Homo sapiens: one gene and its partners. The protein of the gene in region 6 purifies or fractionates together with the protein of the main gene of each other region. This does not show direct contact. Each region holds a gene or a part of one and is shown on either strand. Other genes may lie near its edges. The genes, in order: HMGCS1, TMEM59L, RCC2, AHCY, LTA4H, OCA2 and ATIC.

Region 1 (3,500 bases), on a different chromosome or scaffold from region 6:
GATATTTGTCATTGAATATGATTTTTAACCCCTTCTCATAACCTCTAAAAAGCAAAGTTGGACTACAGAAAAAGTATACTTTATGTAATAATGTGTTATGATAGCATTAACTCAAATACTGTCCTTTCAGTGCCTCAACAAATTTCCAGATTAATGATAACAGTAAAAAAACAAATACAAATTCACAGGTCAAGTGCAAAAAGATTATTTTTGGGGTAAGATCACTTTAGTAATTCATTTTCATTAGCTTTCCCTGAATCACAGCTGTAGTCCAAAACCTTGTTAAAATACCTCTCTCAAAAGATGAACAAAATTCAACTTACCTTCTTTTCTCCACTTTGATTTTCTTACAAGGGGTAAACCGACCTAAATATTTTTGCAGAGATACACCTCAGTTCCAAAGTTTACCTCTTCTAGTAAATTACACTTTCCCAGAAACTATGGGAAAATGTTGTTTGGTGAATGAGGAATTAATGGTAAAAGGATATTAAATGAAGAATGCCCACAAAGTAGTTGCCTACCAAAGATACCTAGTACATTAGACTGCTCTCAACTCATACCAAAACCAAGGAAAATGGGTAAAACTTACCTTTCTGCCACTGGGCATGGATCTTTTTGCAGTAGACAGAATAGCAGCGGTCTAATGCACTGAGGTAGCACTGTATGGAGAGTTTTCCATCTACTATAGGATATTCAGATAGCATATCAGGCTTGTAAAAATCATAGGCATGTTGCATATGTGTCCCACGAAGCCCTATTAGAACCAAAAAGGAAGATGTCTATATATTTCTGCTTCTTGATGTCTGTATGTTAATAAGTATACTGCATTATCTAAGGACCTTCCTTAACTATCTGATCAATTCTCACCACTTACAGTAGAGAAATCGCAAGCTGAAGCCAATATAAGTGAAATGATACATAACAGTATCCATGGACAGTCCTAAGACTCCTTTGGTATACAACTTTCCATGTCAGTTTCATAACTCTAACAGTTCACAGTTACTCTACTACACTGAAGACAAATTAAAATTGCCAGTGACTATCAGCAAGTTACTATTTATCATTTGAACCCTACATTAACCCACTTCTCTGTAAAGTGGGGATGACACCACCTACCTCATAAAACTGCTATGAAGATTAAATACAGGCCAGGCATGGTGGCTTACGCCTGTAATCCCAGCACTTTGGGAGGTTGAGGGGGGCGGATCACCTGAGGTCAGGAATTCGATGCCAGCCTGGCTAACATGGTGAAACCCTGTTACTAAAAATACAAAAAATTAGCCAGGCATGGTGGTGTGTGCCTGCAATCCCAGCTACTCAGGAGGCTGAGGCAGGAGAATCACTTGAACCTGGGGGCAGAGGTTGCAGTGAGCCGAGATCGTGCCATTGCACTCCAGCTTGGGCAACAAGAGTGAAACTCGGTCTCAAAAAAAAAAAAAAAGAAAAAAAAACATAAATATGATAACACACATAAAGCTCTTAGCAAGTAGTACCTGCATTTAATGACCATTAAGTAAGCGACAGCTCCTACTTCTATTTTCAAATTTCTCAGCATATTGTGCTAAAAAAAACAAAAATGCTTTCCCAAGCACTTACCTCGTTCAAAAATTAAAGGAGCATTTGGCCCAATTAGCAGAGCTACTGCTCCAACTCCACCTGTAGGTCTAGCATTTCCTGTGGCATATACAGCAATATCTCCTGCAACTACCAGGGCATACCGTCCTGAAAAATATTTTTTGTTATTTCACAAGAAGGAATTCAACACTATAACCAAACATGGAAACTGAAGTCTGTTATATTTTCCCCAGAATATGCTTTTCCCTTCTTTGATAAAGAAAGAAAATGCTCTAATTTTTTTTTAAAATTCATCTGCCAAGGCTCTGTCATCCATCTGACTAAATTTTGAATAGACCATTTGTCCTACAAGATAAGATAACCAATTCACAATTCGGATAATGACAGACAGGTAAAATATCTTTCTTAATATATCCAAACAAGGACAAATTACAAAAGTTTGCGTATTGCATTAATTAAAGTGTCATCTGGGTCTATTGAACCTTAGAAAAAAATTTTGGGGGACGGCGGGGAATAGGCATGTAACATACCATCCCAAGAGCTGGACTCAATCCAGTTAACAGCATTGAAGACAGCAGCTGTGCCTCCATAGCATGCATTAGTTGTGTCGATTCCTTCTATATCTGTATTCCCAGACTCTTCAAACAGCTGCATCAAATTAGTCTTCACAGACTTTGATTTGTCGATGATTGTCTCTGTTCCAACTTCCAGCCGCCCAATGCAATCATAGGAAAGGTTATTTCTCTCCATAAGATTCTGAACCACAGTCATGCAAAGAGAGTTAATATCTTCTCTATCTGTGCAGAAGCCCATCTTGGCCTGGCCCAAGCCAATGGTATACTTTCCAGCATCTACACCATCATATTTTTCCAACTCTGCTTGATCAACATATTGAGAAGGAAAATAGATCTCAAGGGCAACAATTCCCACATCTTTTGGCCAGCAAGCTTCTGCATTCAAAGGAAGTGATCCAGGCATGGTGAAAGAGCTTTAGAAAGGAGAAACAGAAAAAAAATTGTTTTAGGTTATAAGTTGCTGGTTTTCAACTTTGAAATTGAGAAATAGATATTAAGAGTTTAGCAATCACCTGAAGTATTAGTTTCTTTAAGTTTAGTATTTAGGGCACTCAATTGTGTACATGTGAAGTAGCAATTATTATATGAATGGAATATTATCATTTAAAATTATAGTCTTTTAGAAAGGCTTCCATTTTATTCAAAATTGGGCATCTCTAGATTTAAAACATGATTATTAGAGGTAAACAACACTCAAATAAGATTTTCTACATTGTAAAGAACTGTAAGATAAAATACAATGATAATTTAGAAATATGGCTGACAAATCAGAATTACCTGACCACCCGAAAGTTTTAATAAATTAGGCCGGGCGTGGTGGCTCATGCCTGTAATCTCAGCACTTTGGGAGGCTGAGGCAGGCGGATCACAAGGTCAGGAGATCGAGACCATCCTGGCTAACATGGTGAAACCCCGTCTCTACTAAAAATACAAAAGAATTAGCCGGGCGTGGTGGCAGATGCCTGTAGCCCCAGCTACTCAGGAGGCTGAGGCAGGAGAATGGCGTGAACCCGGGAGGAGGAGCTTGCAGTGAGCAGAGATCATGTTACTGCACTCCAGCCTGGGTGACAGAGCAAGACTCCGTCTCAAAAAAAAAAAAAGAAAAAGTAAAAATCAATCAATCAATCAATCAATCAATCATGTATTCATCATAGATAAACCAGTCCTCTTTTAAAAAAGGGACTAAAAAGTAGTGTCTAGATTTACTTACCAATAGCAACAAAAATCACTAGCTACTCAAGACCATTGTTGGGCATTTAACTTACCAGAGCTTCAGCTTCTTTAACAGGTTGTATTAGTCAGGAAAAGAAAAATTACTATAGATATTTCAAACAGAGGGGAGTTTTAATG
Region 2 (2,835 bases), on a different chromosome or scaffold from region 6:
CAATCATAGCTCACTGCAGCCTCCACCTCCCCGCCTCAAGCAATCCTCCCACCTCAGCCTCCCGAGTAGCTGGGACCACAGGCTCAAGCCACCACACCCAGTTAATTATATATATATATGTGTGTGTGTGTGTGTGTGTGTGTGTGTGTGTGTATTTTGTAGAGATGGGGCCTTGCTATGTTGCCCCAGGCCGGTCTGGAACTTCTGGGCTCCAGTGAATCTCCTGCCTCAGTCTCCTAAAGTGCTGGGATTACAGGCATGAGCTGCTGCGCCTGGCCTCGAGTCAGTTTTCCAGGGACATCTGTAGCTGGGAGTGTGACCTGGGTTAGACCAGAGGGAGTGTCCTTCTGAGAGGCAGCTACTTTCAGTGCCTGGTGCCACCTGGGTTTCCAGGGCTTTCCCATGTCAGAAAGATCCTGCTCGGCAGGGGTCATAGCCATGCGTGGGCCACACCCCAAGGGCAGACAGACAACCGAACAGAAGCAGGCTCAGCCTGAAACTCTTTTATATACATGGTTTATTCCTCCCCAGCCCCAGACAAGCCCCAGGCACGCTTTATAGGGGCATGGAGATGCCCACACCCTGTCTCTCAGAAGCTGGGTCTCTGGAGACCGGGATGGGGAGAAGGGGGAAGCCCTAGCAAGACGCAGCTCCCCCTCAGCCTCAGCGCCCCCCCCGCAGAGAGGGGACATAGAAGGAAAAAGGAAGGTGACACAGGACTGGGGTTCAAATACTCAGAAAGCCACACAATAGAAGACAAAAAGTAGCAAGCCCCCAAGAAAGCGGGGACAAGGAGGAACCAGTGCCCGATCCCGCCCTCTTCCCAGCTGGGGCACTGCGTCCCCAGGACTCCGTGGGGCAAGGGGTGGGACTGGGAGGAGAGGAAGGATTTGGGGGTGGAGGGGCTCAAGGCTGGACCCACCCTGCCCTTGGACTCCTGGGCTCAGGGCAAGTGAGGCCCGAGGGGCCCCCTGCAGTTGGCAGTGATGGGGCCAGTGGAGGCCTACAGCTTGGTCAGGTCCAGCTTCAGCTTGTAGGGTGGTAGGCTGTCCTCACAGGCGTGGGACGGCGGCGGGTACAGGGGCCAATCGGGCTCCATCATGAAGCCCTTGTGCTGCTCCAGGGTCAGAGGCTGCAGGAAGAGAGGGGAGGAGGGAAGTGGAGGGACGGGGAGAGGCCGAGCCCCCAACCCTGACTGTCTCCTTCCCACCTCTGATTGTTTTATTTTTTTTCTTTTTTTGAGAGAGTCTCTCTCTGTCACCCAGGCTGGAGTGCAGTGGCGCCATCTCAGCTCACTGCAACCTCCGCCTCCTAGGTTCAAGCGATTCTCCTTTCTCAGCCTCCCAAGTAGCTGGGACTACAGGTGCACGCCACCACGCCCAGCTAATTTTTGTATTATTAGTAGATATGGGGTTTCACTATGTTGGCTAGGCTGGTCTCGAACTCCTGAAGTGATCTGCCCACCTCAGCCTCCCAAAGTGCTGGAATTACAGGTGTGAGCCACCACACCTGGACTTTTGTGTGTGTGTGTGTGTGTGTGTGTGTGTGTGTGTGTGTGTGTGTGTGATGGGGTCTTCTCTGTTGTCCAGGCTGGAGTATAGTGGTGCCATCACAGCTCACTGCAGCTTCGAACTCTCAGGCTCAAGTGATCCTCCCACCTCAGCTTCCTAAGTAGCTGGGATCATAAACATGCACCTCCACGTCTAGCTAATTTTTTTTTTCTTTTTTTTTTTTTTGAGATGGAGTCTCGCTCTGTCACCCAGGCTGGAGTGCAGTGGCGCGATCTCGGCTCACTGCAAGCTCCTCCTCCTGGGTTCACGCCATTCTCCTGCCTCAGCCTCCCGAGTAGCTGGGACTACAGGCACCTGCCACCACGCCCAGCTAATTTTTTGTATTTTTAGTAGAGATGGGGTTTCACCTTGTTAGCCAGGATGGTCTCAATCTCTTGACCTCGTGATCCGCCCACCTCGGCCTCCCAAAGTGCTGGGATTACAGGCATGGGCCACCATGCCCAGCCACATCTAGCTAATTTTTAAATGATTTGTAGTGACAAGGTTTCACTATGTTGCCCAGGCTCTGGGCACCACAGAGGTGTCACCAACACACCTGGGCATGATAGAGGTGAGGCCAACACCACAGAAGTGTGGCCACCTCTGACTTCATGTCGCCCCAACTAAGAGTGGATTTTCTTCCCACCAATTCAAAGGGCAGTGAAGAAACTGGCCCAAGTCATGCAGCAAGTGTGAGGTCCTGGCTGGGTGAGGTGGCTCATGCCTGTAATCCCGGTATTCTGGGAGGGCAAGGCAGGTGGATCACTTGAGCCCAGGAGTTCAAGACCAGCCTGGGCAACATAGTCCCCATCTCTACAAAAAATACAAAAATTAGCGGGGCATGGTGGCACGTGACTGTGGTCCCAGCTACTCAGGAGGCTGAGGCAGGAGGATTGCTTGAGCCAGGGAGGCCGAGGCTGCAGTGAGCTGTGATCATGCCACTGCACTCCATCCTGGGTGAAAGAGTGAGATCCTGTCTCAAAAATATATATATAGGCCGGGCGCGGTGGGTCACGCCTGTAATCCCAGCACTTTGGGAGGCAGAGGCGGATGGATCACCTGAGGTCAGGAGTTCAAGACCAGCCTGGCCAACATGGTGAAACACCGTCTCTACTAAAAATACAAAAATTAGCTGGGTGTGGTGGCCCGCGCCCATAGTCCCAGCTACTTCGGAGGCTGAGGCAGGAGAATTGCTTGAACCCAGGAGGTGGAGGTTGCAGTGAGCCGAGATGGTGCCATTGCACTCCAGCCCAGGTGACAGAGCAAGACTCCATCTCAAAAAAAA
Region 3 (3,500 bases), on a different chromosome or scaffold from region 6:
AACCCCGTCTCTACTAAAAATACAAAAAAAAGTTAGCTGGGTGTGGCAGCGGGCGCCTGTAGTCCCAACTACTTGGGAGACCGAGGCAGGAGAATTGCTTGAACCAAGGAGGTGGAGGTTGCAGTGAACTGAGATCACACCACTGCACTCCATCCCGGGTGACAGAGGGAGACTCCGTCTTTCTTATCTTGGCGTTGCCCAGCCCAGTTCAGTGCACTGCAAAAAAGGGGGCACAAGGCATGAGTGTGTGTGGATGAGACACGGCCATAGTCGGATTTAGGTTCATTCTAAAAGTGATCTATCTGGATTTGGACAACGAAACAAACACCTGCCTTAAAGCAAGTAATACGCTGAGAATAAGCGATTCTGTAGCTACAAATCAAGCCGATTTCCAAACTACCTGCAAGTTGAGTGTAACTGAGCACCTGCGAATTTGTACAAAGTGCTTACATGGTGCCTGGCACACACAGTCACTGCTCCATGAAAGTGAGCCGTTTTTATCACCAACAGCATGTCATGCTTCCTGACGGAAAATCGACTTGCCGGGGTGCAGAGGGGAGGCCAAGGCAGCAGGAGCGCGCACGTGGCAGGAAGCGGACCGCTGCTGGGCACCGCAGCAGGGCTGTGGCCATGGAAACCGCTCTCCAACTGTCTCGGGCTCCACCACGGCAACCAACGCGAAATGTGAAATGTGCGTAAGGGGCTGTTCTCTCTTATTCACTTCTGACTTGAAGTATATTTAGTTTCACAAAGTCACTGTTCCCCGAGGCTAAGGCCAGCGGGCTCGGCGCTATTTTTACCTTTTCCATCTGCCAGGCGCTGCGGCTGCAGGAGCGCGCGCGGCCAGCAGAGGGCGCCCGCGCCACACCTCGCGGAGGCCTCCCCAGAGGGGCTGGAGTGGAGGCAGAGCCACAACCGGGAAGCGCACTTCAGGGAACCGCACTTAGGGTCCGATGGGAAGGAGAATGGAGACCATCAGGTCGGAAGACACTCCCCCCACTAACTGAGAACTGATGCCTGAATTCTCCTTTTCCACCAATGAGATCGAAGAAACAAGTTTCTGGACAACTAGATTCTGGCTAGGGATGACGCACGGGGAGGGGGTCCACCAGGGCTCCTCACGTGGCAACCCGAAATAATCGCCCAGGCCAGGGTTTCCAGAACAACGTTCATTTTCCGTAATTTTCTCATTTTCAATAAAGGCATAATCTTTAAATGTGAAATTGAATGAAGGTGGTCTGATTTTTTTTTAACTTTGAAATCCCTTTATATAAATGAATTCCCAAATCAGAAAAAAAGAAATCTTTTGTAGGACTCCAGTCCCAACTTTTCCATTGAGGCAGTGTTGCAATACTCCATAATCCTGTGAATGAGGACGCGCTGTTCTGCTGAACGTGAGATCCACTTAACGGACAAAGGCTATTATCTGAGATCAATTACCCACATTTCTAACACGTGTGTGCAGCCCCACACTGATCTCTAGTTCTGAATATATACAGTTAGATTACAGAGCTTTTAAAAAATGTACTTCCATACCCAGCTGACCATATTCAGGGCACCCAAAGGAATAGAGGTTTCCTTTGCAGTCCATTATCATACTGAATTCAGCCCCACAGGCCATTTTGGTAATTGGCTGGCCGTTGTACATTATCTGAAAAGACAAGAAAGGAGACTTTCATTTTTTTTAAAGACTGATAAAAAGCCTCTACCTCTCTGCATGTTGGTGGGAAACAATTACTAGGTTACAAACGGAAGTTTAATAAACTCAGTAATTCTGAAGGCAAAAGCTGAAGGCATTTCTAGAACACAAAGCTTAGAAGATATGTAAAGAAGCACCCTCAGACCCCCACCCTCCCAGCACAGAGCAGTTCAAAGCCTAGCCACTGTCTCTTTAAGATCAATAAAACCAAGTCCCTCCCTTCCTTCATCACCTAGACCACTAATTAGGCACTTAGCATTCTTCTGCCTTTAGTAGTAGTTTGTTTTTAAGGTATAAATCTCACCCCTCCAACTCAAGTTTCTTAGAAAAAAAAAGACTGCCTATCTCCTGGGCGCGGTGGCTCACACCCAGCACTTTGGGAGGCCGAGGCAGGCAGATCAGGAAGTCAAGAGATGGAGACCATCCTGGCCAACATGGTGAAACCCCATCTCTACTAAAAATACAAAAATTAGCCAGGCGTGGTGGAGCATGCCTGTAGTCCCAGCTACTCGGGAGGCTGAGGCAGGAGAATCGCTTGAATCCGGGAGGCAGAGGTTGCAGTGAGCTGAGATCGCGCCACTGCACTCTAGCCTGGCAACAGAGCGAGACTCTGTCTCCCCTCCAAAAAAAAAAGACTGCCTATCTCGTATTTGTATTCTAAGCATCTGGCTGGTGACTTTATACAAGGTCAAAACAAAGTATTTGGGGGAAGTACAATTACATCCATATAACATCACTCACTTTCTTTGGAACAGAACAGGCTTACGACAAGGCATTTCTAACAGATTTCTCCATTTGGAAACAAAATGTTTTCAGGATGGTTTTCAACCCGACCACAAACTAAGCCTGTTTTAAAAACTATAGCAAGGCTGTGTGCAGTGGCTCACACCTGTAATCCCAGTACTTTGGGAGGCCGAGGTGGGTGGATCACCTGAGGTCAGGAGTTCCAGACCAGCCTGACCAACATGGAGAAACCCCGTCTCTACTAAAAATACAAAATTAGCCAGGTGTGGTGGCACATGCCTGTAATCCCAGCTACTCCAGAGGCTGAGGCCGGGGAATCACTTGAACCCGGGAGGCGGAGGTTGCAGTGAGCCGAGATTGCGCCATTGCACTCCAGCCTGGGCAAAAAGAGTGAAACTCCGTTCTCAAAAAAAAACAAAAAACAAAAAAACAAACAAAAAAACTCTACAGCATGTAACTAAACATCCAGACCCTGTTTTTACAAGGGGTAAATTAACTCAAACGGAGACCCCACCTTAGAAAATCAAACACAAAAGTAAAGAGAAACAAAAAGCCATGGAGCCGGAGCTGAGGAGGGGTCACCTGCGCGGGGCTGGGAACAGCGTCTGTCTGGTTGCCAAGGCCCAGCTGCCCCATCTTGTTTTCCCCAAACGCAAACACGGAGCCCGTTTCTGGAAGAAAGGAAAAATATCACAAAAGGGAAGATAATGGTGAATGTTTTGAACTAGATTTAGAATCAAAGGCATCAAAATAATAAAAACAGCTCATTTGCCAGGCAGAAGGCAAGTGAGACTGCCCAAAAGCTGGCAGTGCAGACGCTTCACAGCAAAGCCATTTCACATCAGAAACTGGGTGTGCAGAGAAACAGAGGGCAGCGTCTCCTACTCCCAGATGGGCCTCCTATGGCCACTGGGGAGGCTCCCAATGCCCTCAAGAAGCCACTCCATGCCAAGGTTCTCAGGGCCTCTTTCTGATCCTGACCAAGAGTCACAAGGGGAACTCCACCACCCCACGCCCCATCCCCAAGGCAGACCACCTGGCCTCTTGCCAAACTGAG
Region 4 (3,500 bases), on a different chromosome or scaffold from region 6:
GGTGATCCGCCCATCTCGGCCTTCCAAAGTGCTGGGATTACAGGTGTGAGCCACCATGCCCGGCCAAAGCTGTGTCCTTTGTTACTCTGCCTCCATCCTGACCCCACATGCCGTCCATCCACCCCAGCACTCCCTAAGCTGAGGCTGCCATCATCCCCTGCAGGGATTCTACGAGCCTCCTCTAAAAGCCTCTCTCCCCACCACCCGCCATTGTTGCTTTTATTCTGCACACAGTAGCTAGAGTGATCTTTCTAAAACTACAGCCTCACCACATACAGCTCACCTGCCTGATACCTTCAGGGATGCCGGCTGCCCACAGGATAAGGTTGCCACGTCTGGCTGGCTCTGATGCTAGGCCCTCTTCTCCCCATCCCCCTGCACAGGTTGCCACCATCTCCTCAGCTCTCCTCCCTGGCAGCCAGCACTCCTCTGCACTCCCATCTGCCCAGCCCACTGGCAAGGCGGGAGCTTCTCACCTGCGGCTTGATGTTCACCTTCTCCACGGCGTTCTCGTTGAGCCACTTGACATCGATCTCCACGTCAAAGTGTCCAATGTTACACACAATGGCATCATCCTTCATCTGCTCAAAGTGCCTGTCAGGCAGCCCAAGACCGTGGGAGATTGTCAGGGACAGAAAGCTGTCCCAACTCTGCCCTCCTCCCTCACTCCCCGGGACCCCCCATCTGGCACCTACCGGCCAAGGATGATGTCAATACAGCCTGTGGTGGTGACAAAGATGTTGCCCTCCTGACAGGCCTCATCCATGGTGGTCACCTCATAGCCTGTGCAGAGACAGTGGCTGTGGGTCATCTACGGTGGCCTTGCCCCTCCCTCTGGCCCCAGTGGCTGACAACCAACCCTTGCCCTATCCTACCCTCCATGGCAGCCTGCAGTGCGTTGATGGGGTCAATCTCGGTGATGATGACGCGGGCTCCGAAACCCCGCAGGGCCTGGGCACAGCCCTTGCCCACATCACCATAGCCTGCTACCACCGCTACCTTGCCGGCAATCATCACATCTGTGGCCCGCTTGATGCCATCTATGAGGGACTCCCGGCAGCCATAGAGGTTGTCAAACTTGCTCTGAAAGGAAAGGGGGTAAGGAGACAATAGGGGCAGGCAAGGCCCTGGGGCCAGGACAACTTGGCCTCAGAGTATTCTGAAGAGCCCAGGCATCATGGGCCCACCAAGCATCCCGGCCTGGGCTGAACCCCTCCAGCACCCAATGCCCCCACAAGCCCTTCACCCCGATCGGCTCAAAGAGCTTCTCTCTAATCTTTCTCTGCCAGTGTGGAGCCTTCCTAGGCATCAGTTACTAGGAGAGATTGCCCGGTCAAAGACCTTGCTTAACTTGAAAGCTCTTCTTCCCAAAGCCATAAAGCTCCTAACACCCAGCTCTGACACCCCTTTTAAACGCACTCATTAGCCTGTCTATAACCGCTTTTGCCCCCTCAAATGAGGGCTTCATGTCCCTAATCTCAGCCTTCCTGGGCACTCTTCTTCAGAGGCCTCGTCCTGAGCTGCAGCCACTGTAGCGGGAGCTGTCACTGCCCCTCGGCTCACCTTGGTGACGGAGTCATTGACATTGATGGCAGGCACCTTGAGGATCCCATTGGCCATCATCTTGTAGAGGTTGTGGACCCCAGTCGTGGTCTCCTCAGAGATGCCTCGGATGCCTAAACAAGAGGGGACAGGACAAGCCTCAGAGATGCCACACCTGTGCTCATGCAAATTCCTCATCTTTACCCCCTAAAGCCATTCCTCTTTCTGGGTTCCCATCTCTGTGACTGATCCCACAGGCCCCCCAATCACCCAGACCCGCGTGAGGGAGGAGTCCCCAACGCCCTCCTACAGGGAAGCCACCACCAGGCCTAGTGACTCTGCCTCCGAACAACTCCCAGCTTCTCTATTCTCACTGCCGCTGCTCTAGTCCGTGACCCTGTCGCTTCTTCCCAGTCTCCCTACCACAACCCATCCTCCATGCAGCAGCCATTTCTAACATGTATCTTCTCAGAGAAATCTTCTCAACGCCCTCCAGTTATTTCCCCTTGCTCTGCAAATCAGGTCAAACACTTTTCTATTGGCCTATTAGGCCCTGACACATCTGGTCTTCACGAAGTTCACACCATACCCGCAGTGAAGGCTCCCTTTGCTCACTGCTATCCTGTGGGCCTCTTTTCTGTTTCCTGAACACTCCAGCCATTCCTGCCTCAGGGCCTCTGCACTCTGCGTACCTGCTTTGAACAAAGCTGGCTCCCTCCCAGCTATTCCCAACCATGGCCCTGTCTGTGCCTGCCCTTGGGCCATCAGCTCAGCTGCCCTAGCCTCGCACCCTCAGAAGTCAGGAGGCCCCAGCATGAATGCCAGAGCCTGCCATCCTCCCATCTTCCAGATCCTGCTGCTTGAGGTGATGGGAGTCCTGCCAGGCCTGCGGCCATCATGTGGGCAAACAGGCCCCACCCAGGCCACCAGCACCCAGCCCACCTGCCCCGCCCTGCTCACCTGGCAGAAGCTGCGGGTACTTGGTGTGGATGAGGTTGGTGAGGTCGCCCCCGTCGTCCAGAATCATGTTGAGGGGCCCGTCCTTGAAGTACAGGGTCTGCTCAATGCACCACAGGTACTCCTCGTCCGTTTCGCCCTTCCAGGCATACACTGGAGGGTGAGTGGCACATCAGGGCCTGGACTTCCCAACTGGTACCTGCTCCAGGGAACAACTCTGGCAGAGCCAAAACTACCTCCTTCCCAACTCCCATCCCCAGCCACCTCCGGCCCCTCTGAAAACTCAGCAGTGGTCAGGACACAACTTGGAGCCAGATAGATCTGAGTTCAAACCCTGGCTCTGCCACTTGCCAGCTGTGTGACCTTGGGCAAATCACTTCACCTCTCTGAGCCTCAGTCTTCTCCTCTGTAAATAGGGCTCACAATAGTATGGATTAAGTGAGACAGAAGCCATGTACAGCCCCCCGCCCCAGATATAGATATCAGGAAATCATTCTTTCCTTTCCCATCCCCTTCTGCCTGGGCGCCAAGGACTGAGGCATCAACCCTGAGTGACCAGGGCTTGATACCCCACAACGCCTCCCCCTCAGCAGGATCCACACGGCAGGATCCAGGGTTTGCTCTGCACTGAAAGGACTGGAGCACTAGCAGCCTCTGTGTGGGGGAATCTCAGGCAAAGTCTGGCCAAAAAATGACTACGAGCAGCTACCATGTGTGGGGTACTTGCTTTCTGCCAGACATGACTCTAAATCCTCCATACCCCATCTCATTCTTCCTCATAGAAACCCTGTGAGGCAGCCATGACCATTATCATCACTTACAGATGCCCAGAGAGGAGCTAAGACGCACTTGGGCCACTCTAAATGAAATTCCAGAATAGACACCAGAACTGAGGGCTACTGACCACCAGCCCACACTCCTCCCATGTGGCATGACTAGGGCACAGGTGTGGGGTTCCCAGGAGCCTCTTGTGAGCAAAGGACGCTGGCCAAGCAGAGCCA
Region 5 (3,500 bases), on a different chromosome or scaffold from region 6:
TACAAGCTAACTGTAGTTTACCGCCAATGAAAACAAAAATCTAGACCCTAGGATCTTACTTTTTGGATGAATTTGTATATTTTCCTGCTTGGGTCTTCTGGGTCAGGTGTTTCTCCATCACGAATAGCACTCATAAGTGCCACCAGTTCTTTAGGGACAGACACCTAATCAAGGAGAAAAATCATTTCTAGTCATAAATAAAAGCTTCTATGTGTCTTAAACCATATATGTAAAATAACCTTTTCTTCCCATTCTTGACTATCTAATAAACAGACTATGAACACAAAAAGTATATACATATACAAAAAGTATATATATACACACACATATATATGAACACAACGTGTATAGATGTGTATATATATGCACACATATATATGTGTATATATATAAAACACATATACAAAAAGTATATATATACACATATACATATCAGTTTTGTAAATAAAATTAGCAATATGGGAAACTGGCTTCTTTAAAAGTGAATGTGAAATTTCTATCCATTCACCCATGCACATTAAGAGCAGAGTTTTGGTAGAAACTGGATTAAAATCCCAGCTCTGCCACCTAATAACTAACTGCACAAACTTGGGCAAATAAATATAACCCCCGAGCCTCAGTTTCCCCATCAAGTAAGTGTAAAACTTCAAAGGCTTGCTGCAAGGAATAAATAATATAAGTGAAGAGCCCAGCACCATCCCTGGCAATGGCAGCCACCATCCCTGCTCCCGCTACACTCACAAAACAGATTCAAAAGGACGTTATATACTCACTGTAGGACAGAATGGTTTTGAACAATTTTGTTTTGAAAACACACACTTGGAGTTACAAATAGAGGAACATTTTAAAAGTAGTAACTGTGAAAAACTAAAATTTATTGCTAAAAACTGTCAAATAATTTTCTCTGGAAATCCATACGGAAAAGACCCTTATGCGGCAAACCATATAGTCATTTAACTGTGTATCCTAGCTCCATGATTCTGAAAGTTTGATTTCTGATGAATGCCAGAATAAAGGACTCCCCCAAGTATTAATGATCAAACAAGAATATATTCCAGTAGGGGCTAGACTTTCATGTTCTTCTTGCATGGCTCAGGACCCAAAGCTGTGACTGAGGCAGGCACAGAATTAGAAGTTCCTGAACCAGTGCTACAACAATTGTAGATTCTAAAGCACAAAACTATTCAGGAAATAATTCGGTTCAGCCACCTCCCTTCATTTAGGTGGTGATACGTTATATATATGTGCCAGCTGAGGTTGCGAGGTCATAAAACTTGTTCAAGTGTCACATCATTATTTATTTATTTTTTTAGAAATGGGGTCTCGCTATGTCGCCCAGGCTGGCCTTGAACTTCTGAGTTCAAGTGATCTTCCCACCTCAGCCTCCCAAGTAGTTGGGACTTCACGCAGTTATTAAGTGGTGGAGAAGAGCCAGAGCCCTGGGATTCTTTGCCTCCAAGTATAATATATCACTGCACTATCCTAGATGTAATTTGGTTGTGGGATGATTTGGGAAGCAAGAAGGCCCCATAAATATGGGTTGGTCCTCATTCTATTTGCTTGGTCTAAGTAGGTCTAGCCTCCGGGATAGTGATTATTTAGTAATTACAGTCCGCCTTTTCCAAAAAGGATTAGCAGTACCTACCAAGGGAATAAGTTGGAATTGCATACAGACAAGTCTGGAATATATGCCCACTAGGCTTATATGGCTACAGAATGCATTTATAGAAACTTAAATCATGCAAATGTCAATTTTTAAAAGTTAAGTAAAAATTGTTCCTAAGTTCTTATTTCTAGATCCAGGATTCTGAATTTCTTCTTTTTGTTTGTTTGTTTTTTTGTTTTTTGGGTTTTTTTTTTGAGACGGAGTCTGGCTCTGTCGCCCAGGCTGGAGTGCAGTGGTGCCATCTCAGCTCACTCCAAGCTCTGCCTCCTGGGTTCATGCCATTCTCCTGCCTCAGCCTGCCGAGTAGCTGGGACTACAGGTGCCCGCCACCATGCCCGGCTAATTTTTTGTGTTTTTTTTAGTACAGATGGGGTTTCACCATGTTAGCCAGGATGGTCTCGATCTCCTGACCTCGTGATCCACCCATCTCGGCCTCCCAAAGTGCTGGGATTACAGGTGTGAGCCACCACACCTAGCCCTGAATTCCTTTTTAAAAGTCAGATTGGTTTCCATTTCCTTTTTTTCACAGTTAAAATGTTTAAAACTGCCTTTAAAGTAGAGATTCAGAATGAGTGCCACAGCCTCTTTGTTTACATATTTCAGGTAGAATTTCATTAAGAAAAATAATTCTAGCTCTAGGAATTCAATTATCATCTCTGCTTATCATTTATACCATATTTACTGATATGCATCATTTAATTGAGTTAATAATTCGTAATATTTACCTCTGCAGTATAGGTTAATTTCACAGAAGGAGTGTCCTGACAAGGAAGGATTGCTCTGCAGTGGATGGCCTGAAAAAGGGAGAAACAAGAAGAAATAGCTATTTATCTTTCGCATAAGTCATTAAGAAATCATTAAAAATTGCAGCATTGTTCTTAGACATTAAAATAAAAACAGTCCTCATTTCTTGGGATTTTTTTTTTTTTTTTGAGACGGAGTTTCACTCTTGTTGCCCAGGCTGGAGTTCAATGGCATGATCTTGGCTCACTGCAACCTCCACCTCCCGGGTTCAAGCAATTCTCCTGCCTCAACCTCCCGAGTAGCTGGGATTACAGGCATGTACCACCACGCCCAGCTAATTTTGTATTTTGAGTAGAGATGGGGTTTCTCCATGTTGATCAGGCTGGTCTCGAACTCCCAACTTCAGGTGATCTGCCCACCTCGGCCTCCCAAAGTGCAGGGATTACAGGCGTGAGCCACCACGCCTGGCCTTTTGGGATCTTTTAAAGTCCAAAAATAGATTCTTGGACTTTTAAAAATCAGATTTTCCATTTTAATCTATGGTTAACCCTCACATTTCAGTTGAAGCATGGAGAAACTCTTAAGCAGTGTTTCCTACTCTATGGTCTGGGTGACAGTAGTGCCCAGTGAGAAGCTTTTAGAAACCTGAGAAAAAAGGGCTCTGTAGCAAAACAGACCTGAGAAGTATGGCATACTGCACCACTGTCTTGCAGAGCCACTAGAATATTAGCCGCCTGAAGGCTCTGAACAGACCTACAATAAAGAAACCTGTTTGATTTCTTACATTTATGTTAACACAAAACCCATTTCTCTCTGGTTTAACACCTAATGGGATGTCAGTATTCTAATGAACACAGCCTGAGAAATGTTGCTGTAATCCTGACACTTCAATCTTGCAGCAAACCTTGTAAGTAAAACAAAGAAGCAAAGAAGGGAGAAAGAACAGTCTCTTTCAATACCATCTAGACATATTCATTCATATCATATGCAAAGTGTTTCTGTACTGCCACACCAATCGTTATTAACATTGGTTCCATCCAGTATGACCACAGGCCAGGTGCCGTGGCTCACTCCTGCAATCCCAGCACTT
Region 6 (2,971 bases):
ATACAGCAGATATTCAGTAAGTCATTTACCTACTAATGGCAGGTTGCCATTGTTATGATTTATCCATGTCCACAGGGAGGCAGCATATGTAGTGATTAGGAGTACACACTCTTAATCACTCTTAATCACACAATCTAACTAGAGTTAGACTGATGCATTTGGATTGTCACACCAGAGCAAACTAGCTGAGAGACCCAGGCAAGCCTGCTTACCTCTCAACATCCCACCTCTGCAGTAGGTGTGATGATGCCAATTCCAGAAGGCACTGTGGGCAGTTGAGAGGGTCCTGTGCATGGAGAGTGTCACAGTGACTAGGTGTTGTGAGGGAGAGTAGGGTTTCTGATGGGTCTGAGTGATTGCATCAGTTCTGGGTGAAATGAAAATGTTTGGTGATGCTAGGTGATGCTCCTTCTCTGCGTTGGTGCCATCCTCAAGACATCAGTGGCTCTCACTTGGGAGCACGGCAAAACCACCCACCAGGAACTTTCTCCAGTCTTGGGCTTCTCAAGCAAGGTCTGCTTTTTGTGGAATTCACCCCTTGGCAGGCAAATTTGCTTCTAAAACATGGCCAGGTGTCTCAGCACCCGGATTGAGATTCTCGGCATCTTACCTGACACTGACTCACTCTACACAATCTGTCACAGAGGAACGAAGGCTTTGTGCTTCCATGAAGGCTTGCAGTGATGTCTGTGATGCCTGGAGTTGACCAGACACTGTCGTGGGTTGTGTTTTTCCAGAACTCAATGATCAGGGCTGACATTTTGCAAACATGTTCAGCTATTTTCAAAAACAAAGTTGATAAAGTTCAAGAAATTTAAGTAGTTTTCCCAAAATATGTTCTGTGTTTCTTTTTGTTTGTTTTGTAAAATAAAATGTGTTCAGAAGAGAAGCCAAGAGAATCCTACCACTTTCTTGAAATGCCCAAGTCTACTCTATAATTTCGGGAGCTGTCTCGCTCATGGAATCAGTTTTTGTGTTTAATTGTAGCTCTGTTGAGGAACCCTTGCTGTGGCTCTTTCTGAGTAGCCTCTTCCTACACTTATGGCCAGGGAAGAGAGAATGTCTTTATAATTGCCACATGCTAGGCTCTTACTGCTAAAACTTAAGCCTTTTGAAACCAAAATTGTAACATTTGCAGGGGCTTCCCTTAGTGACCAGGCAGCACTGAGCAATGGCTACAGAGCGTGCATTACCCATGCCAAGTGGCATCTGTCAGTGCCTGGAAGCTGGGGTAGGAATTTGTGGAGATGTGTGTACATTGGAGGAGGCACACAATGAGGGATGCTTCTCTCTTCTCATGACTGCTTTTGTATCTGTGCATACCCTCCTTGTCCACACGTCTCACACCTCACCGGCTACAGAAGAAAAACTTCTTCTTCCCTTTGCCTTTCCTTAGACAACAGTTGGCCTTAGTTTCCAACACTACTTATCAAGCTCTCCTTGGCCTTAAGTGTGAGGGACTTCAGGAGCCTGCTGGAAGCTGGGATCTCTGGGAAATCTCCAGAGAAGAAAAGTTGGAAGATGACACAAGTAGAGGAAACATCCAGAGATTTAAATGGTGGCCCAGCACATGGCATTGAAAGACCAACAGTCTAATATAGATGAACAAACAGAGGCTCCATATAGCCATTAAAAATTTGAGAAAACCTTAAGCAGTTCTCAAATAAAATTGCACACAATGGAGGATGTCTAATAGAAGCATGCATTCACATAATTTAGTCTAAAACTAACTTCCTGATTTATGGAAATAAAAGGTAGTGGCCATTGTGAAAATGCAAAGGTGCTAAGGCCATGTTCTCATGAGCTATGAGTCCGTATCTCATGAGATTATCCAGATTTCAGATGCCATAACTCATTTCTCTTTGTATTTCAGGCTGGGCTTCCCAATGATGGTTGTGTCCTGCACTGTTGGGATGTGTTATCTCCTTGTGGCTCATGTGGTGGTGGGATGGAATTAATAGACATCCATCTATTGCTCGAAGACTAAAGGAAACTTCATCCATCACAACCCATTAGTCATAAAACTACCCTGACCCCACTGTTTGAAGAAGAAAAGGTGCTTACCCTGGAGATGCTACAGAGACACAGTGGAATAGACCTTGACACTAACACTCTAATTCAAGCGAATGTTGGAACACCATGACCTCCTCTGTGTGTCCTTTCTCCCCAAGGACAAAATGTAGAAAGATGTGAGATAACTTACTCAAGATTCCCCTCCAGAAAAATACGTATGTTTAAAAACCCTTCCTGCTATACATAGGAAAAGACACACATCCACCTAAAATTGACTGTACTGTTTAACTGTCAATTCTCCTGAGGCTAAACACAGTTTGTTTTTCTTGTAATCACTTTTCATGTTAAAATAATCAGCATTCAAATTGTATGCTTTCTGAATATAGACTTTCTGGGAAAAGGTTTACTGCTCGTAAGGAAACATTTTATGTATTAAAATAAACTGTTCCTTGATAAAAGGCTTTGGAGTAGTTTACATTATGTAAAATTGCATTTTATCCATTTATATTTTTCTCTGCAGTTTTAAAGTTATTAATTAAAAGTCCAGAAATTTGACTTGCAGAAGATCATAGGTATCTTTTAAGGATATCTTACATATTTAACAGCTTAGAGTAATGATTTTTCCATTTTGCAAGTGGTGCATGCTATTTCCATCAATTACACAGACGTACACTCGATACCCTCAGTCCTGCTCTCCCTGCAGGACGCTGTGGCTCAGTCGGTGTTTATTAAATGCAGTTCTTTTGTGAAGCATTCCTTGTGAGGTAAGGGTAATGAGAACAAAGACCAAGGGGGAGCCCTGTGCTTCCTGCGAGGTCTCCTCTGCTCTGCCTCATCAGTATCATGGCTATGCCCCAGAGGAAGAAGCCCTTCTTCAGTTTCTGATCTTCTGTGCATGACACCTTGGAATGAAAATGGGGACACTGCTCCGAAGTGATTGTGTGTCAAGCGTCTGACT
Region 7 (3,500 bases), on a different chromosome or scaffold from region 6:
TAAATAAATAAATCAGGAAAATAACCCAGATGCATCTCTGCATACAAAAAAAGCTTAGAAAATATAAATGAAAAAAAGAAAATATAAATGAATTATAGTAATCCCAAAACACAATCCAGAAGTAGCTATTTTCTTTCTATTTCCTCAGTAATAAAATTCAAAATGAAATCTCACTAAAATTTAAATAATCCTCTCCTCTCAGTCTTCTAAAATGGTTTTTCTGACTTACCAATGTCAATTTGCTCCACAGCCTCCTCAACAGTTACACCTGGAGAAGCCACTGTCTTTACAAAGGGATAGAGATTGCAGGCAACAACTCTATAAAACAAAGACGAATCTGGCTGTCATTAAAAAGTCCACTCATGTGGTTTACAGCTATCTAGGAAAAAAACAAGTCAGTACTATTAACGTAAACAAAAGCCATAGAGAACTAATATATAAACTGTGAGCCTGACATTTTAGAATTCTAACGAGTGTGTTAAAAAGTCAGGGTGTCCTGCTGGGGTCGAGCAGAGGTAATTTAGTCAGCAGGTGCTCCCCGGATCTGAATACACAGTACTCCCTCCACGTCACACTGCAACGCTGCTGCTTGCATAACCTTAGCTACCCAGAACCACCAAGCCATGAAAAATTTATAGAACATTTTAATAGAAGTATAAAGTACAAGATTACAGATAACATTCTCATTTTGGAATGTGATCACTATTATCCAGAACATTAGAATTTAGATTCTTTTTCCAGTGGATTGGCACAATGATGAAAAATATCAGAGCATTCTAAGGGTGAAACATTTGTTTTGCCTTCAGAGAGGTCATAAAAATGATGGTAACAGGAATGCCAAAAGAATAATTTAAAATACAGAAGTAATCTAAAATTAACAATCAGTGAAGTACAGTTCCACTCCTAGGCCTGTAGTGCGAGGAGCTCTACGGGCAGGCTCCAAACAAGCCTAACTGCTGAAAACTAATTAAAAAAAACAAAAACAAAAACAGAAGAACAGAATTGGAGGGGAAACATTTTGCAGCTCATCTTTATTAAGTCTACTGCCCTCCTACTAAAACCAGACAAATGTCACAAGAAAACTAGAGACCAGTATCTCTTAGGTATCTTCACACAAAAACTCTCAACAAAACACTAACAAACTGAATCCAGAAAAATGCAAAAACCACCTGATCATCTCAATAGATGTACAAAAAGGATCTGACACAATTCAACAGGTATTCATATAGAAACACTCAGCAAATTAAAAATAGAAGGGAACTTACTGAACATGACAAAGTGTAAGAAAAACCCACAGCTAACATCATACTTGATGGTGAAAGACTAAAATACTTGTCTACTCAACTCAGAAACAAGACAAGAGGCCAGGCGCAGTGGCTCATGCCTATAATCCCAGCACTTTGGGAGGCTGAGCCAGGCAGATCACCTGAGGTCAGAAGTTCGAGACCAGCGTGGCCAATATGGTAAAACCCCATCTCTACTAAAAATACAAAAATTAGCCGGGCAAGGTGGCGCACGCCTGCAATCCCAGCACTTTGGGAGGCTCAGGAGGATGGATCAACTGAGGTTGGAAGTTCAAGACCAGCCTGACCAACATGGAGAAACCCCATCTCTACTAAAAATACAAAATTAGCCAGGCAAGGTGGCACATGCCTGTAACCCCAGGCTGAAGCAAGATAATCACTTAAACCCGGGAGGCGGAGGTCACAGTGAGCCAAGATCACGCAACTGCACTCCGCCTTGGGCAACAAGAGCAAAACGCCATCTTAAAAAAAAGAAACAAAACAATAATGTCCATTCTTACCACTTCTACTGAACACTGTACTAGAAGTTCTAGCCAGAGCAATTAGCAAAGAAAAGAAAATAAAAGGCATCAGGACTGGAAAGAAAGCAGTGAAGTTATATCTATTTGCAGATGATACCACCTAGTATACAGAAAATCCCAAATTCACAAAAATAACCTTTTAGCACTAATAAATGAGTTCAGCAAAGCCGCAGGATATATGATCAATATATAAAAATCAATTGTATTAAAATATACATTAGCAGTGAATGAGAAAAAAATTAAGAAAACAATTCTACTTCACAAGACAATGTTAAAGAAATTAAAGACACCCCATGTTCACAGACTGGAAGATTTAATATTCTTAGGATGGTAACATTTCCCAAATTGATCTACAGATTCAACACAATACCTATGAAAATTCCAACTGCGTTGTTTTGCAGAAATGGACAAGCTGATTCTAAAAATCATGTGGAAATGCAAGGGACTCTGAAGAGTCAAAGTCATCTTGAATAAAAAAAACGAAGTTGGGGCCGGGCGCAGTGGCTCACGCCTGTAATCCTAGCACTTTGGGAGGCCGAGGCGGGCGGATCACGAGGTCAGGAGATCGAGACCATCCTGGCGAACACGGTGAAACCCTGTCTCTACTAAAAATACAAAAAAATTAGCTGCGCATGGTAGCGGGCGCCTATAGTCCCAGCTACTCGGGAGGCTGAGGCAGGAGAAGGGCGTGAACCCGGGAGGCAGAGCTTGCAGTGAGCCAAGATCGCGCCACTGCACTCCAGCCTGGGCAACAGAGCCAGACTCCGTCTCAAAAACAAAACAAAACAAAACAAACAAACAAACAAAAAACAGAAAAATGAAGTTGGAGGACTCACACTTGCTGATTTCAAAATTTGTTACCAGCCTATAGTAATAGTGTAGTACTGGCATAACAGCAGGCACATGGACCAAGGGTGCCAAGACCATTCGATTGGGCAAAGAACAGTCTTTTCAACAAATGATGCTGAGACAACTAGACAGCCACATACAAAATAAAATAAGACTTCTATTTCATGTCTGTATATGAAAATTAACTTAAAATGAACCAAAGACTTAAGTATAAGAGCTAACACTAAAATAACTCTTAAAAGAAATGTACACACGCCGGGTGCGGTGGCTCACACTTGTAATCCCAGCACTTTGGGAGACCGAGGCAGGTGGATCACCTGAGGTCAGGAGTTCAAGACCAGCCTGGCCAACATGGAGAAACCCCGTCTCTACTAAAAACACAAAAAAATTAGCTGGGCGTGGTGGCGGGCACCTGTAATCACAGCTACTTGCGAGGCTGAGGCATGAGAATCGCTTGAACCCAGGAGGCGAAGGTTGCAGTGAGCCGAGATCACGCCACTGCACTCCAGCCTGGGCAACAAGAGCGAAACTCCATCTCAAAAAAAAAAAAAAAAAGAAAGAAAATATACACAAAAATCTTCATCACTGAGGATTAGGCAATGGTTTCTTAGACATGACACCATTAACACAAGCAACAAAAGAAAAAATAAATTCAACATCATCAAAATTAAAAACTTTTGTGGGCCGGGCATGGTGGCTCAAGCCTGTAATCCCAGCACTTTGGGAGGCCAAGGCGGGCAGATAACCCGAGGTCAGGAATTCAAGACCAACCTGGCCAACATAGTGAAACCCTATCTCTATTAAAAATCCAAAAAAATTAGCCAAG

What was found.
Region 1: the proteins of OCA2 (region 6) and HMGCS1 purify together in Homo sapiens (affinity purification with mass spectrometry; one large-scale study listed by BioGRID and IntAct). This does not show direct contact.
Region 2: the proteins of OCA2 (region 6) and TMEM59L purify together in Homo sapiens (affinity purification with mass spectrometry; one large-scale study listed by BioGRID and IntAct). This does not show direct contact.
Region 3: the proteins of OCA2 (region 6) and RCC2 purify together in Homo sapiens (affinity purification with mass spectrometry; one large-scale study listed by BioGRID and IntAct). This does not show direct contact.
Region 4: the proteins of OCA2 (region 6) and AHCY purify together in Homo sapiens (affinity purification with mass spectrometry; one large-scale study listed by BioGRID and IntAct). This does not show direct contact.
Region 5: the proteins of OCA2 (region 6) and LTA4H purify together in Homo sapiens (affinity purification with mass spectrometry; one large-scale study listed by BioGRID and IntAct). This does not show direct contact.
Region 7: the proteins of OCA2 (region 6) and ATIC purify together in Homo sapiens (affinity purification with mass spectrometry; one large-scale study listed by BioGRID and IntAct). This does not show direct contact.

The regions. Positions count from the first base shown.
Region 1 is NC_000005.10:43,296,413-43,299,912, forward strand, and holds part of HMGCS1 (hydroxymethylglutaryl-CoA synthase, cytoplasmic), read right to left. Parts: intron 2,564-3,500; 5' UTR 2,554-2,563; coding exon 2,106-2,553; intron 1,723-2,105; coding exon 1,597-1,722; intron 755-1,596; coding exon 590-754; intron 1-589. UniProt on the Homo sapiens protein: Catalyzes the condensation of acetyl-CoA with acetoacetyl-CoA to form HMG-CoA, which is converted by HMG-CoA reductase (HMGCR) into mevalonate, a precursor for cholesterol synthesis.
Region 2 is NC_000019.10:18,618,705-18,621,539, reverse strand, and holds the end of TMEM59L (transmembrane protein 59-like precursor), read right to left. Parts: intron 1,133-2,835; coding exon 1,004-1,132; 3' UTR 501-1,003; downstream 1-500. UniProt on the Homo sapiens protein: Modulates the O-glycosylation and complex N-glycosylation steps occurring during the Golgi maturation of APP. Inhibits APP transport to the cell surface and further shedding.
Region 3 is NC_000001.11:17,419,178-17,422,677, forward strand, and holds part of RCC2 (protein RCC2), read right to left. Parts: intron 3,115-3,500; coding exon 3,026-3,114; intron 1,652-3,025; coding exon 1,537-1,651; intron 1-1,536. UniProt on the Homo sapiens protein: Multifunctional protein that may affect its functions by regulating the activity of small GTPases, such as RAC1 and RALA. Required for normal progress through the cell cycle, both during interphase and during mitosis.
Region 4 is NC_000020.11:34,289,856-34,293,355, forward strand, and holds part of AHCY (adenosylhomocysteinase), read right to left. Parts: intron 2,653-3,500; coding exon 2,503-2,652; intron 1,677-2,502; coding exon 1,564-1,676; intron 1,084-1,563; coding exon 876-1,083; intron 784-875; coding exon 696-783; intron 595-695; coding exon 477-594; intron 1-476. UniProt on the Homo sapiens protein: Catalyzes the hydrolysis of S-adenosyl-L-homocysteine to form adenosine and homocysteine. Binds copper ions.
Region 5 is NC_000012.12:96,022,088-96,025,587, forward strand, and holds part of LTA4H (leukotriene A-4 hydrolase), read right to left. Parts: intron 2,461-3,500; coding exon 2,392-2,460; intron 165-2,391; coding exon 60-164; intron 1-59. UniProt on the Homo sapiens protein: Bifunctional zinc metalloenzyme that comprises both epoxide hydrolase (EH) and aminopeptidase activities. Acts as an epoxide hydrolase to catalyze the conversion of LTA4 to the pro-inflammatory mediator leukotriene B4 (LTB4).
Region 6 is NC_000015.10:27,754,375-27,757,345, reverse strand, and holds the end of OCA2 (P protein), read left to right. Parts: intron 1-1,873; coding exon 1,874-1,958; coding exon of another isoform or gene 1,959-1,987; 3' UTR 1,988-2,471; downstream 2,472-2,971. UniProt on the Homo sapiens protein: Contributes to a melanosome-specific anion (chloride) current that modulates melanosomal pH for optimal tyrosinase activity required for melanogenesis and the melanosome maturation. One of the components of the mammalian pigmentary system.
Region 7 is NC_000002.12:215,322,059-215,325,558, reverse strand, and holds part of ATIC (bifunctional purine biosynthesis protein ATIC), read right to left. Parts: intron 319-3,500; coding exon 230-318; intron 1-229. UniProt on the Homo sapiens protein: Bifunctional enzyme that catalyzes the last two steps of purine biosynthesis.